Linked DNA regions of Homo sapiens: region 2 is linked to region 1. A link means that fine-mapping ties the variant in region 1 to the expression of a gene that starts in the linked region. Tissue or cell type: whole blood. Region 1 holds a variant in brackets; the other region holds the start of a gene. All regions are shown on one strand. Distances are from middle to middle.

The links. PIP is the estimated chance that this variant, and not a neighbour inherited with it, causes the effect.
Region 2: it holds the start of PASK, and the variant in region 1 is fine-mapped to the expression of PASK in whole blood (INTERVAL, PIP above 0.99).

Annotation. Positions count from the first base shown.
Region 1 is chr2:241,098,887-241,106,886 of GRCh38, reverse strand. MTERF4 (mitochondrial transcription termination factor 4) reads left to right here and starts at 4,600. Exons shown (of 4, transcript NM_182501.4): 1 at 4,600-4,634; 2 at 6,993-7,491. The coding sequence starts at 4,614. PASK (PAS domain containing serine/threonine kinase) reads left to right here. Exons shown (of 18, transcript NM_015148.4): 18 at 164-788. The coding sequence ends at 321. RefSeq lists enhancers at 4,274-4,813, 4,814-5,353. The variant G/TG (reference allele first, on the strand shown) is at 4,836.
Region 2 is chr2:241,144,745-241,152,744 of GRCh38, reverse strand. PASK (PAS domain containing serine/threonine kinase) reads left to right here and starts at 3,273. Exons shown (of 18, transcript NM_015148.4): 1 at 3,273-3,331. PPP1R7 (protein phosphatase 1 regulatory subunit 7) reads right to left here and starts at 2,278. Exons shown (of 10, transcript NM_002712.3): 1 at 2,198-2,278. The coding sequence starts at 2,249. RefSeq lists silencers at 1,857-2,196, 3,327-3,686, 3,747-3,806, 3,857-3,906 and enhancers at 2,487-2,646, 4,160-4,319.

The DNA of each region.
Region 1 (8,000 bases):
AGATCCCCACCTTGGCAGGATCTGTACTTCCGGGACATTGCCAGTTGGATTTCTGAGGGCCTCACCTTAGGCTTTTGTTCTAGGACTTCTTCAAGTGAGAAGCAAAGTATTTTAGAACCTTAAGTTGTTAGCACGTGATACAGTTACCTTCTTGTTTCTTCAGAAAGTGGAGTTCTGTCCGCTGCGAGCCTGGAGATGGGGAACAGGAGCCTGAGTGATGTGGCCCAGGCTCAGGAGCTTTGTGGGGGCCCCGTTCCAGGCGAGGCTCCTAATGGCCAAGGCTGTTTGCATCCCGGGGATCCCCGTCTGCTGACCAGCTAAACACCAATTTCTTCCTGCTTTTCTCCACTTGGTTTGGAAAATCACACAGTTTTCAGGCTCCATCTGTTTGGAGAAAATACATTCTGAAGCATCCCCAATTCACCTTCTAAAAACTCATGTGCAGGTTTGATAAACACCAGAACAGAAGACAGTGATGCTGTATTATTTTAGATTTATTACATAGATTTGGAATTCACTTTTTTCATGACCTAGAAAAAAACATTCCAGTGTTCAACTGTTTTATATTATTAAAGGGCTTTTAATTTGTGAACTTCTGAAGGCATGAGTGTTTTCTCTTTCTACTTTTGTATATGTGCATGTTTTGTTTCCTCTGACTTGGTATATGCTCATCTGAGTGACGGATATGTGAAATTTGTAGAACTGGTTAGTCAAATGGCCAGACTATTTCATTAATTTATTTCCTCAAATGCTTTTCAAATTAAAGCACCTTTGTTAGTAAACAGTTATCCTGACTTGGATGTTGTGAACTGTTCCCGTGTGCTAAGTGTGAGAAATACCTGGTTTCCTCATTTTTCCATGTGTGCACCCCACTTGCCACAGTTGGAGAGAAGTCTAGCCTTGGCCATTCTGGGGTTCCTTTTACAAGCAGGCCCTGCCAGGGGTGGGCCTAGGGCTCTGAAGCTTGCTCCATCTGGTAAGACGGGGGAGGGTGGCTTCCTCAGGGACCTCCCTTCTGTCTGTAGCAAGACTCTGCTGTCAAACACGTGGCTGGCTCACTGCCAGCAGTCCCCAAATATCCCATGGCCAGCCAGCTCCCACCTCTGTCCACATGAGGGGCTTCCTGGCCCAGCCCCCACCTCTGGTCTGTGTGAGGGGCTCCAGCCCTGTATTCCTCCGAGCTGCTCAGGTTCCAGGGTGTTTGTCAGATACTCAACTGGCTGCTTCCCTCCCTTAGACTCCAGTCCATCCCCCTCAGACAGACTTGGCTAGGTCAAGTACTTAGGATTGTTTTATTTCATGTCTGTGTTAGAGAGGAGGGAATAGCTAGAGGTGAGAGCAGAACCTTTCATTTTTTTCCCCTGCTGAGACAGTAGGAAAAAAACCAAAAACCTAAACCCCTACCCTTTTCCCACATGTCATCACTTGCAGACGGTTTTTCCACATTCTGAGACTCCTGCCCAGAACCCTCTGGAAGCTGCCTGGGAGCCAGGCTGCCTCCTGCGTGGTTCTGAGCTATTTCTAGTGGTTATTTAGGAGGCACTCAACTGTTTTGGGATGATCAGAGTTAATTTTAGTCCCATCTAGTAGGATATGGGCTATTGCCATCCCTTTCTTCAGAAAGTGCTGCCTGAGCCTCGCTGCCACCACAAGTGACTGATGGAGTTGGTGGGGGAGGACCCTCCTCTATCAGGGACATTCAAGGTACAAGGGTTTTACAGGTGTGTATTAAAGTCAGTGATGTTCACTCTTCAGAATTCAAAGAGTTTTCTGATGTTTTAAGAACCCCTACCTTGTAGTGTTTATGGTGCTTATAACACAGAGGATGTTATAGAATGGTGTTTGTTTGTTTGTTTATTTATTTAGAGACAGAGTCTTATACTGTCGCCTGGGCTGGAGTGCAATGGTGCGATCTCAGCTCACTGCAACCTCCGCCTCCCAGGTTCAAGCAATTCTGCCTCAGCCTCCCAAGTAGCTGGGATTACAGGTGCCCACCACCACGCCTGGCTAAATTTTTGTATTTTTAGTAGAGACGAGGTTTCACTATGTTGGCCAGGCTGGTCTCAAACTCCTGACCTCATGATCCGCCCGCCTCGGCCTCCCAAAATGTTGGGATTACAGGCATGAGCCACTGCGTTCGGCCACAATGGTGTTTGCAGACAGGTGTTTAATGGGTTGAGAATGCATAGTCTGAGCTTTCTAAGAACTGTTACTTCTTTATAAGAAAAAATAATTAAAGCTCATCTGACTTCATGGCAGTGGAAGGTCTGGTATTTTGCAAACGTTCTTTGCAGAAAGAACCCAGAGAGGAAAGTTCTGAGGCTGAGGCTGACAATTTTTCCACTCCATTTTTTTTTTTTTTTTTAAGATGGAATCTTGCTCTGTCACCCAGGCTGGAGTGCAATGGTGCAATCTCGGCTCACTGCAACCTCCGTTCCCTGGGTTCAAGCAATTCTCCTGCCTCAGCCTCCCGAGTAGCTGGGATTACAAGTGTGCGTTATCACGTTACCTGGCTAATTTTTGTATTTTTAGTAGAGGCAGGGTTTCACTATATTGGCCAGGCTGGTCTCGAACTCCTGACCTCAGGTGATCCACCCATCTCAGCCTCTCAAAGTGCTGGGATTACAAGCATGAGCCACCGTGCCCAACCCACTGCATATTTTTAAAGTATGGTTCGAGAGAGCAAAGTTTTCACACAAGACTGAAGGTGATGTCAAATTTTTTTTTTTTTTTTTTGAGAAGTACTTTCGCTTTTGTTGCCCAGGCTGCAGTACAATGGCGTGATCTTGGCTCACTGCAACCTCCGCCTCCCAGGTTCAAGTGATTCTCCTGCCTCAGCCTCCTGAGTAGCTGACACTACAGGTGCCCACCACCATGCCTGGCTAATTTTTGTATTTTTAGTAGAGATGGGGTTTCACCATGTTTTCCAGGCTGGTCTCAAACCCCTGACCTCAGGTGATCTGCCCACCTCGGCCTCCCAAAGTGCTGGGATTACAGGCGTGAGCCACCACACCCGGGCTCATGTCAATTTTTCATAGTAATCCCCATGTCCCAGCTGTCATTTTATTTCTAGAGCTAGACAAACTGTTCAGGTTCCTTGATTCTTTCCAGGGAGTTGGGGTGGCTCATGGGATTTTCTTAGGCTTTTGGTGTAGCATTAACACAATTTATTGTGAGATGTTGACAGTTGAGTATTTTGAGAAGAAAATTACATTATAAAAAACAACAAAGGCAACCAATTTTTTTTTTCCTTTTGTTTTTTGAGACAAGGTCTTGCTCTGTTACGCAGGCTGGAGTGCAGTGGTGCAATCATGGCTCACTGCAGCCTCAACCTCCTGGACTCAAGTGATCCTCCCACTTCAGGCTCCTGAGTAGCTGGGACTACAGGTGCACGCCACTACTCCCGGCTAATTTTTTATTTTTTGTAGAGACAGGATTTTCCTATGTTGCTCAGGTTGGTCTTGAACTCCTGAGCCCAGGCAATCCCCCCCACCTCAGCCTCTCACAGTGCTGGGATTACAGGCGTGGGCCACTGCACTCTGCCAAAGCAACCAATTCTTTAGTTTCTACACGGATTAGAACCTTCCTTTTCTTTGACATAATCCTTTTGTCAAAAGACAGTTTTACATAAATTGTTTGGCACCCCACTCCATGCCTGGCGCAAAGCAGATATGTAAATGTGTGCCCATGCAAGAATCAAATCCTTTATGTCAGTCCAGAATGAAGTAGATAAAACAAGAAATGCTTATAAATTAAGGCTTTGGTGGCAGGATTTAGGCAGCTGAGAAAGCACACCTTTTTATTCTTCACAAGCATCACCTTGTGAAAGATGCCTACGCTCTTAGGTCGAGAGAGGAAATTTAAGAATGAATACACATTGGGCTAAAACTTTACTATATTTCATCCTAAGAGGGAACCAGACCTCGAAGTTGGGAAGGCTCTTGCTTATAAAGGGAAATGTGCCGTAATTCCTGTCATTTTACTTGGGTCTTTTAAAAACGGCAAATTCTCATCTTCCACTGGCTGAGAGTAAAAAGAAAGAAAAGCGGTAAAGACTTCTTTTTGTGCGTAGGTGGCCCCGGTGTTCACGCTGAATACAGATTTTTACACAATAAAATCTTAAATATCTCTACATGGAACGGAATCCATTTTTCCTGCCTCGGGAAGGATTTCTGCGCTCTCGGGTGAAGTTCCCGAAGCAAGGAACCAGTTCCCCTCTACCTGTACTCTTGAGAGGAATTCTCAGGTCATCTGAAACACAAGTATGGGCCAGGACGACCCATTCGTTCACGCGGCCCAGAGCTCTGCGAAACGGGACACGGCAGTGCAACGGGAACAACCGGACACCGAGGCCCCCGAAGGCTGAGGCCGCGGCAGAGGCGGCGGCACGGTGACGGGCGCGACTCCGGCCTTCCGGCTTTCTAAGGGGCGGCCCCGGGACACCTGAGCCCCGCGGGGCCGTGAACGCTCAGCACAGCTCCGGGCCGGAATCACGATCCACCACACCGCGCTGGCGCTGGGAACGGCGTCGGTGACGGACCGGGGGCCGGAAGTGAAGGACGGGGGAGGACCGCTGCTTCCGGCGCCGTAACTGCTGCCATCTTCTCCGCGCTATGGCTGCGTTCGGCCGTCAGGTAAGCTCGAGCTGGGCGCGCGGGCTTCTCCGGGTCGCAGGCGGGCGGGCAGCGACGCAGAGGAACCGCGGCCGCCGAGTGTTTCACGGCCAGGTCGTGGAGCCCTCCCGGAGGTCCGTGCACGCTGACCTGGTTTTGGCATCCTGGACCCGTGGCTCTGCTCAATTATTGTGGGATATAGAGTTGACATTTTTTTTTTTT[G/TG]AGACAAAGTCTCGCTCTGTCTCCAGGCTGGAGTGCAATGGCGCGATCTCGGCTCACTGCAACCTCCGCCTCCCGGGTTCAAGCAATTCTACTGCTTCAGCCTCCCAAGTAGCTGGGATTACAGGCGCCCGCCACCATGCCTGGCTAATTTTTGTATTTTTAGTAGAGACGGGGTTTCACCGTGTTGGCCAGTCTGGTCTGTAACTTCTGGCCTCAGGTGATCCACCCGCCTCGAACTCCCAAAGTGCTGGGATTACAGGCGTGAGCCACCGCGCCCGGCCTGAGTTGACTGTTGAACAAGAGTTTGAACTTCACAAGGAAGATAACATGTACTTTTCATTAAGAGGAAGCGGAATCAGCATAGAGGTCTTTAGGCTTGAGCCCAGTTCCACGGGCCGCGCCCGCTGACCCCAGCGACTGCCAGGTGTTCCTGGCGGAGGGAGCATCTGGACAGGGGAGGCTGGAGAGCAGCCAGAGCTTGGGCTTGGCAGGGTGGCCCCAGGGCGACAATCGATGACGCTGGAGAAGGGGTTGGGACCGATGTGAAGGTTTTAGAGCAGGGGTTCCCCAACCCCCGGTACCGTCCCTTGCCTATTAGGAACCAGGCTGCACAGCAGGAGGTGAGCGGCAAGTGAGCCAGCCAGACTGTATTTACAGCCGCTCCCTTCGCTGGCATTACCGCCTGAGCTCCGCCTCCTGTCAGACCAGCCGCCTTAGATTCTCACTGGAGCGCGAACCCTATTGTGAACTGCGCCTTTGAGGGGTCCAGGTTGCGCTCCTTATGAGAATCTGATGCCCGATGATCTGTCACTGTTTCCCATCAACCCCAGATGGCACCTCCTGGTTGTAGGAAAACAAGCTCAGGGCTCCCAGTGATTCTACATTATGGTGAGTTGTATAATTATTTCATCTTATATTACAACGTGAAAATAACAGAAATAAAGTGCACAACAAATGTAATATGCTTGAATCATCCTGAAACCCCTCACCAGTCTGTGGAAAAATTGTCTTCCATGAAGCCAGTCCCTGGTGCCAAAAACGTTGAAGACTGCTGGCTTAGAGTGCCTGGATGATTTGTGCATAGTTTGTTAAGCACCAGCCTGAACCACTGAAGACTTTTGAGGTCAACTGGAATTGTGTATGCAAGTTGACTAATTACTGTGACCCTTGAACAACACAGGGGTTAGGGGCACCAGACCGCCCCCACACCAGTTGAAAATCAGTGTATAACGTTTGACTCCTCCAAAACTCAACTACTAATAGCCTACTCATGACTGGAAGCCTTACCGACAACATAAACAGTTAACACATATCTTGTATATATATATATTGCATTCTGTATTCTTAAAGTAAGCTAGAGAAAAGAAAACGTTATTCAGAAAATCATAAGGGCAAAACCCCGTCTCTACAAAAAATACAAAAATTAGCAGGGTGTAGTGTGCACCTGTAGTCCCAGCTACTCAGAAGGCTGAGGTGGGAGGATTACCTCAGCCTGGGGAAGTCAAGGCTGCAGTGAGCCATGATTGCACCACTGCACTCCAGCCTGGGCAACAGAGTGAGACCCCCGTCTCAAAAAACAAAAAGAAAATCCTAAGAGAAAATGTATTTACTATTCATTAAGAGGAAGTAGATCCTCATAAGGTCTTTAGGCTGAAGAGGAGGTGAAGGAGAGTTTGGTCTTGGTGTCTCAAGGGTGGCAGAGGCGGAAGAAAATCCACATATAAGTGGATCCAAGCAGTTCAAACCCTTGTTGTTCAAGGGCCAACTCTGTATCCCACAAGATTCTTCTCGTGGAATGAATTTAAGAACATGAATCTGGAAAGTAGTCTGAGGTCCAGACTTTTCTGGCACACATGACCAGGTGGCCTAGAAATAGTTTTTCCCTCTTCCTCCATGTCCCTGCTCCCATCCTTAAAGCTGCAAAAGCTAACAATATTGTACCTGCTTGACTCCCATCTCTGTGGCCTTGAAATACCCTGTTCTTTGTGAGCTTCCTTCTCTGTAGGCTTAAGTTCAGATAGGATTTTGCAGATTGCTTATAAAAATTGTATGTTTGTGTGGAACCAAGGCAGTAAGTACTCTGGCTCAGAAGTCTTATGGTGTCCATTACACTGGAATAGTGAGGAATTAATTGTCTTTTGGTCCTGTGTCTTACAGGTCCTTGATTGGCACCGCCTGATCCCCCTCACCTGGGCCTGTATGGCTAGGCAGACTCCTCATCTTGGAGAACAGAGAAGGACGACAGCTTCTTTGTTGCGCAAACTGACTACAGCCTCCAATGGAGGGGTCATTGAGGAGTTATCTTGTGTTAGATCCAATAACTATGTGCAGGAACCAGAGTGCAGGAGGAATCTTGTTCAGTGCCTCCTTGAGAAGCAGGGGACTCCTGTGGTACAAGGGTCCTTGGAGCTAGAGAGGGTCATGAGTTCCCTCCTGGACATGGGTTTCAGCAATGCCCATATTAATGAATTGCTCAGTGTACGGCGAGGTGCCAGTCTTCAACAGTTGCTGGACATCATTTCAGAATTTATTCTCTTGGGTCTGAATCCAGAGCCTGTGTGTGTGGTCTTGAAGAAAAGTCCCCAGTTATTGAAACTGCCTATTATGCAAATGAGGAAGCGCTCCAGTTACCTGCAAAAGCTTGGGCTTGGAGAAGGTACAAGAAGTTGCAGATTTTGGCTGGGTGCGGTGGCTCATGCCTGTAATCCCAGATCTTTGGGAGGCCGAGGCAGGCAGATCACTTGAGGTCAGGGGTTCAAGATCAGCCTGGCCAACATGGTGAAACCCTGACTCAACTAAAAATAGAAAAATTAGCTGGGCTTGGTGGCACGCACCTGTAATTCCAGCTACTTGGGAGGCTGAGGCATGAAAATCGCTTGAACCCAGGAGGCGGAGGTTGCAGTGAGCTGAGATGGCGCCACTGCACTCCAGCCTGGGTGACAGCAAGGCTGTCTCAAAAAAAAAAAAAAAGATTTTATATAGTGTGACAGGAGCCAGAGGTGGGGAAAGAGCAGCCTAAGGTGAGATGGATTAGGGGAGGTTTCTGAGTATGTCAGTGTTCCTGGAGAGGACTGTATAATTTGGCTTGGAGGTGAGGAATAGGAGTGGCTTTCTGTGCAGAATACATTTTGAGAGGGAAGGAGGAGGAGTTAAGACTAGAAGAAA
Region 2 (8,000 bases), 46 kb before region 1:
CTCTTTTGGAAGTCTGTCTGGAAAACATGAGGCACTAACACATTACTTGGAATTATCAACCATACTGAAAATACTCTTTCCTGACTATGGTTTATCTACAAAGAGATGTGCTCTTTGAGGGAAAAAGTTCAACTTCATCTTTGTACTTCCCGCTTAGCCTAGCAAAGTAAAACCCAAGAAAGGATTGCTGTAGAAAACAAGTCCTTATAAAACCCACCTCCAAAACCTCCAAATCCATCTCTTCTTCCCTACCCCCGCAATGACGGTGGCTCACTTACTTATTAGCTGCAGCCTGGGCTCCTGCCCTGCCTCCTAACTCGTCTCTGTGACTTGTCTTGCCCTGCTTAACCTATTCTCCCCTGCCAGAGAGTCTGATCTAATTCTAAAATCCAAATCTGATCTTTTGAGTCCAAAAGTATTTCTGGAATGCTCTTCCTGAGTTTGCATCTTGCTGCTAGAGATGCAGCTTTGGCAAATCGTTTCCATTTGAAAGCCTCAATCTCCTAGTCTGTGGAAGGGAGCTAGTATAGCACCTATGCCTCAGCAAGTTGCTGTCACGGTTAAATTAGAAAAGGCACAAGAGCAGTTAGCACGTGCATGACATGCAGTAGATATATAACAAATTAGTCACCACCAGGCACAGGTCACTTGGTGGTCCAGGCTCAGGGAGAGAAAGTTCTACTGCATGACAATCTGGCACAAAAACCCCAGTAAGAGGAGGAGTGGTGTGAGGTTAGCAAAGGCTTAGCTAACGAAGGTTGGCCAAAGTGAAGCCTGAGGGCAGCAGAGAGGGTCTGGAACATGGGACAGTGGCTCTGCATGTAAGAAAATGACTTTGGTGTACTGGGGATGATGGGCTGGTGAACAGGGACAATCAATCTAGCCTAGAGATGATGAAGGTCTGAGTTAAGGTACTGGCAATGGGAATGGAGGACGTATCGGAGATTTGGAGATACTTTCAAAAGTAAAAGTCAGAGCTCCTTGACTAACAGGACATGGGTGGGAGTGGGACAGTGAGAAAAGCCGGGCTTTTATATCTGTCATTTACCAAGACATGGAAACAGCTGAAGAGGGAGTGGGAGGATATGAAGAGGCGCTTCTTAAAAAGACTCAAAGGGTATGAAGTCCAAGACCCTTAACACTACCGCCCCCATCCCCACCACATACGATTTGGTCAAACTCTCCTCCACACCTTTTGACAGCAGTTTTCTCCGTCTTGAGTGATTCTTGCTCTTTTCCCTCACCCTATCCCCAACCTCGTTGCCTTCGAGTTATTCTTCAGGCTCCAGCTCAGAGCTCGCCCTGCTTCTGCAGCTGTCACCACTCCCTAACATGTCAGGCCTTCCTGCTGCACCCGCCCTCCTTCCCCAGCTCCACATTCCTCTTCCCTACCCCTTTCACATAAGGCAGTGACTGCTCTTCTGGGAGGTCTGTACCCCTCACCAAACCATGGGACCCAAAAGTACTTAAGCTGATGACACAACTGATTCCCCAGTTGCTAAGTGGGTGTGTGCACGCATTTTTACACACATACTGTACGTGCACGTATATGACTGTACCTACAGATATGCAGAAAATTATAAACACATGTGTACGTATAACATATACATATATGCATGTGGTTTTTTTTTCCAACAAAGTGAATGAGGAGGAAGAAAGTTGAATTCAGACTTTTTGGAACTATGACAGCTTTGAAAACAGGTATCACCTTGTGTAACTCAATCTTCCGGTTCCTTGTTACCCCTTCCCAACAGTCCATTCGATTTCAAGAGAAGACCCTTCTCCACCCTCACCACGTGAACCAAGGAGCAGACTCTGGTAGATCCCAGCGCCTCAGTTTCCTCGTCAGCTGACCGAGGAGGCTCCCCCGCCCGTCAATCTCAGAGGCTCGGGGCGAGGCTCCAACTGGACTGAATGGAGCCACCGCGTCCCATTCAGCCCCACCCCCGGCCTGGCCTCGCGCCGCCGCTCTCCCCCTAGCTCTGGGTCCTTCCCGGCCGCTGCCGCCCCCGGGCCGGGGCTCCCCCGAGGTCCAGCGCCTCCCCCGCTCCCCCGGGTCCGGCTGTCAGCTGTCAGGGGGCCGCGCGGCGGCGGCCAGAGGCAGGACGTGGAGTTTCTCTCAGGCACGGAGCAGTTCCAGCCCGCAGCTCCCCCCGCCCGCTGGGCCCTTGGGCCGCCGCCCGCAGGGGCCGCTCACCCTCCATCATCTCCTGCGACTGTTGCTGCCCCGCGCCGCGTTCCGCCGCCATGTTGGCTGCTCTTCCCCTTTCCGGAATCTGTCGCCTCAGACCCCTCAGCCAATCAGGGCTCCCGCCTCAGAGCCGGCCCTGCCAATGGGATTCCGGCGCGGCGACTTCAGCCGCGCCGCGCCTGCGTGGGCCCAGCGCCTCATGGGAGTTGTAGTTCCGTCATGAGGCCGCGCGCCGCGCCTCCCCCAGAGCAGGTAATTTCAGGCGGCGGAGCCGGAACAGTCTGGAGGCGAGAAGCTGGGAAGGAAAGCAGAGGGAGTCGAAGCGGGACGCACAGAGCCGTAGCTGCAGGCAGACGGAGTGGACGTCTAGGCAGAGTGGAGAGACGCCCTGGGCTTGAGAGTTGACTTATGTCACTGTCTCGACCTCGGAGGCGTGGAGGGGCCGCGGGCCAGGCGGATCTTTCCGTGGCTGCAAGGTGCGGGCCAGTCCTACGTGCATCCCTGACCTCTGCGAGCCTCGCTGGCTGCGTCTGTACAATGGGCCGAACGGCAAGAGCAACAACATTCTCCCGGCGTCCCCGCGCGGATTTTACCCATGCGAAATGCCGCCTTCTCTTGACGCTCGGAGCAGGCGGGCAGGTGCGGGGCACTTGCGCTGGTGGGGCCGCTAGCCAGCTGGCTGGCTCCGGGGCGCCAGCTGGGCTCCCCTTGCAAGTCGTTCCCAGCCCAGTGCGGACGCTGCAGCCTTCGTCTACCCTGCGGAGCCACCCGGCCCATGAACGAGCCGCCCCGCGTCCTCCGCCTTCAGAAAGAGGCCTCCAAGAGGCGAGCTCTGCGCTACTCACCCATTTTGATCGCGAGTCGGGAGGAAACCGCATCTGCCCGGCCCGGGGGCGGAGGCGCCCATTATTCCTTTGGCTCCTCCGAAGCGCCGTAGGGGTGTTTGGTGCGTCCCTAGCAACCCTTAGCGCGGGCTTCTAGACTCTGGCTAGCTTAGTCCCGCCCATACGCGCAAGTGGCTGGTCCGTGGAGCTTGTCAATCGGTGCTAGTCGCTGTGCGATTGGTCGGTGGGATAAAAGCGCGGAAGGGCTCCTTTCCGTGGTGTGTAGCCGGCTTGGCGTGACCCTCGCCTGATCCAGGTGAGATACCTGCGCTCGGGAGAGCGGGCCGGGCTCCGCCATCTCCCCAGGGCGGCTGTGGGGCCTGCGCGGCTCCGCGCCCCTGGCCCAGGAGGATCCGCCGCCCGACTCTTAGACCAGCCCGACCCCGGGTCTCCCGCCCCTGCGCCCGTCGCCCTTCGCGCACCGCCGAGCCCGCGTCCTCTCCGTGCCCAAATCGCGGCGGGGTTGCGGCCGTTGGCCCTGGGCCCCGCGCCCCCAGCGTCTTCGGGGTGCCCTTCAGTGTAGCCTGCCCGGTGGGCGCCGAGGCCCCGCGCCTCGGGTCGCCTCGGGACCCTGCGCTCTCTTCACCGCAGCCGGCCCTGCGGGGCGAGCTCCAGGAGAACCAGCCCGGATCCCGCCAGCCTCCTGCACTGGGCGTGTGGGTCCCTGCGGGCTCAGCCGGCGCCGCGGGGTCGGGGGCGCGCGCCGCCGGCGCTCGTGGTTACAGCAAAGACCTGGACTTGAGCCTTAATTTTTTCACTAATTTTTCTTTCCCAGAGTACGGCAGGGGCCTGCGCTGCCGTCTTGAGGCCTTTCTCGTCCTTACCTTCCGCATCTCAGTACCATTCGATGTCCATTTTTCTCTTAGGGGTTCCCTCTCTTCATCTTTCTGCTGCTACCTTAATTTAAGACTTTATAATTTCTTGCCTGGATTACTGTAGCCTTTCTCCTGCTTTCCAGCCTTGCACCGACATGGTCCCTGGAGTAATCTTTGTAAAATGCATATCTGGCCATGTTACTCCTAAGCATTGAATCCTTAAAAGTTCATTTTGGGGATAAAATTAAGACTTTGGGCAGGCATAGGAGGCTCTGGGCTCATGCTTGGCCCTTCCAGGCCCACGTCCACCTACTCTTCTGGGTACTGAACTCCTCTCTGGGAGGCTTTGCCTCTGAAAGACTTCTTCACTCTGCTTGGTAGGGCCCGGCTCTGCAGGTGCCTCCTCCAGGACTGACATCCTTGCTGTGTTCTACTGCACTGTTCACCTTGTTGGCCTCATCCTGAAACTGGTTCTCCTTTTTGTTGTACAGCTGTGCTGACAGCAATGGGAGCTGTTTGCTTCTTAGCTTATGTTCTGGTGGGAGGGGGACAGTTGCTTCTAGAAGTTCGCCGAGATGCTCCCTGCAAAGTTGTCCTTGCTTCTGTTTGGTCTGAGGTGGGGTCACTTGTGTCTTCTGGAATCAAAACTAGCAATGGGAATATGGTTACTCGGTGGCACCATTAGGTGCTGTCTGCTGGGTTTGGGTTCCCGTGTCTGCAGCTCACAGTGGATACAAAGGACAATTTTAAAAATTTGGGCCTGGACGTGCAGGTATTTCTGGTTAACGTCTGAGTCAAAATTTAGTGATCTAAGGTCATGTGAAGCCAGACTCTGTTCTTTCTTGAGGCCAGGCTGTGGCTGTGGAGTGCACGGGAGGCTCCAGGGGCCTATGCTGTTCAGTGACAAACTGGCCCACGTGGACTTCAGATGCCCAGGAGGCACAGCGGGAAAAAGGATGCATCTTTCCTGCTGTCCTCCCCGCTCCCGCAGAGGGTCCCATCAGTTTCCCTCCTGGATAGGCTTGTAACTCTCAGTAACCTAATTAAACTTCCACAACTTTAGTTGGTATTTATTTACTTTCTCCCATGAAGGACAAAAAATTGCATGCCCTTACCCTCCCTTTGCTTTTTTTCCCCCTTTCCATTTCATGTTAGTTACTTTTACAAAGAAACTTCTGTAACATTTACAATATATTCTGAATAGTTATATTACTTTTTTATTATTTTATTTTTTGAGACAGGGTCTTGCTCTGTGGCCCAGGCTGGAGTGCAGTGGTGCTGTGTCCTCTCACTGCAGCCTCCGCCTCCTGGGCTGAAGCGATTCTCCCACCTCAACCTCCCAAGCAGCTGGGACTACCAGCATGTGCCACCACACCTTGCTAATTTTTAATTTTTTTTTTGTAGAGATGGGGTCTCCCTATGTTGCCCAGGCTGATCTCGAACTCCTGGGCTCAAGTAATCTGCCTGGCCTCCCAAAGTACTGGGTATATGACTTTTTAAAATAGTTTTGTAACATTGACATTGCAGTCTGAAGAGTTATATTTTTTAGGAATTAAAGTTTTCTAACAATGTATTCTGAAGAGTTATATTACTTTTTTAAGAAAGTAAGGTTTTACAACATTTACAATGTATTCTGAAGCTATAATTAAGTGTCCTGAGCTTTGTCTATAGGTTGGTTCTAAAAGTAGAAAAAACTGCCTCACACTATAATCATGTCATTGTTATTTATTATGGCAATAATTAGTGCATTTGGATGCTTAGAGAAGGAGATGTAAACCTGTAACTAAAGGTCCCATTCATTGTTGCTGCTTGTAGGAAAGCTGCACACTCGAACCCCAAACCCTATATGTAATAGCTTCCTACACATCTGCAGGTTTGCAGAGCCTTTGCCTTCCAGGGTCCTAGGCTGGGTTTGTGTGTGAATGTCTCTGAATTTTTTGGCCGTATCAGTTTATTCATACAAAAGAATAAAGGCAGTGTTAGTCATGAATTGTACCAGCAGAGTGGATGCATTTGAACCCATCACCCTAGGAAATCAGGGGACCTGTGCCCTTGTGCCTCTTCCCCACTCTTGCACCTGCCTGACCCAGAGGGAACCACCTGCCTGAAATTTAGGTTTACCAGTCTCTTATTTAAGAAGTAGTTTAATTACATAGGTGTGTTTCCCTGAACTACTTATTTAGATTATTTCATGACAAAGGAATCCTCCTGCTGATTGTCTTCCGTAACTTGATTTTTTCCACTCGTATATGGCTAAGATTCACCCTTGTGTGTAGTTTATTTGTTTTCACTGCTGTAATTAGTGGTATGAATATACCAGAATTTAAAATCTATCTTCTTGTTAAAGAGTGTTTGGGTTTCATTTCCTTTTTTCCTCCCTCTCTCCCGCACTCCCTCCCTTTCTTCCCTCCCTTTTTTCTGCCTGTCTCTTTGCCATTGAGAACCATATTGTCCCGAACATTCTGGTGTCTTCTTATCTGTTTGCAAAAATTTCTCTGAAATATAAATCTAAGTGAAAAGTGCTGTATCCATATAGACAAATGTTTCACTTGAATTGTTTTCTAAAGAGATTATATTAATGTATTAAGAGTTCCTGTTGATCCAAATCCTTTTTGACATTGGGTATTACTAGATTCTTCATTTCTGCTGACTTAGTAGGTATAACATCATCATGATTAGGATTTCCTCTCCTGTAAAACGCTTGTTCCTATTTCTTGACATTTTTTATTGGGCCATGTGTCTTTTAAAAATGTTTAAATTTTAAATAGTTGATCTTTTAAAGCTATTCTGGATATTAATTTTCTGTTGGTTATGTATGTGGCAAATATCTTCTCCCAAATTGTGGCTTGTTCTTTCGTTTTCTTTATGGTATTCTTTGTGAAGCTGTGTTCTCATTTTTTTTTTTCTTTTTTTTGGGGGGGACGGAGTCTCGCTGTGTCGCCAGGCTGGAGTGCAGTGGCGTGATCTCAGCTCATTGCAACCTCCACCTGCCAGGTTGTGTCGCCAGGCTGGAGGGCAGTGGTGTCATCTCGGCTCATTACAACCTCCACCTCCCAGGTTCAAGCGATTCTCCTGCCTCTGCCTCCAGAGTAGCTGGGAATACAGGTGTGTGCCACCATGCTCAGCTAATTTTTTTTTTTTTAGTAGAGATGGGGTTTCACCACATTGGTCAGGATGGTCTTGATCTCTTGACCTCGTGATCTGCTTGCCTCGGCCTCCCAAAGTGCTGGGATTACAGGTGTGATGTGTTCTCAATTTTAACGTTAAACTTATTAATCTTATTTTATAGCTAGAGTTTTTTGTGCCTTGTTTAAGAAAACTTTCCCTACCCCAAAGTCTTACAGATAGCCTCTTTTCTCCTAAAAACTTAGTGATTTTATTTTATATTTTATTTGGTTTGACAGGTCTCGCTTTGTTGCCTAGGCTGGCCTCCATCTCCCTGGGCTCAAGCAATTATCCTGCCTTAGCTTCTAGAGTGGCTCGGACTATAGGTGCAGGCCACGAGACCTGCCTGGCTAAAAAGTTTAGTGTTTTGACTTCCACAGATCAGATCTTTTATGCCCTGGGCACCATAGTGAGACCTCATCTCCTAGTTAAAAAAAAAGATGGCCATGTGAAGATACATACAAACAGGGAGAAGTCGGCCGGGCGCGGTGGCTCACGCCTGTAATCCCAGCAGTTTGGGAGGCCGCAGCAGGTGGATCACGAGGTCAGGAGATCGAGACCATCTTGGCTAACACGGTGAAACCCTGACTCTACTAAAAATACCAAAAATTAGCCAGGCGTGGTGGCGGCTGCCTGTAGTCCCAGCTACTCGGGAGGCTGAGGCAGGAGAATGGCGTGAACCCGGGAGGCGGAGGTTGCAGTGAGCCGAAGTCGCGCCACTGCACTCCACCCTGGGCGACACAGCGAGACTCTGTCTCAAAAAAAAGAAACAAACAAACAGGGAGAAGCTCTGTGATGGCGAAGGCGGAGACTGGAGTGACGCAGCTGCAGGTCAAGAACACCAAAGATGGCCAGTATGGCCAGTAGCCACCAGATGCTAGGATAAGGCAAGGAGGGGGGACTCCTTGGAGTTCCATATTGGAAGAGGTGGTGTTGGGAGGGCCA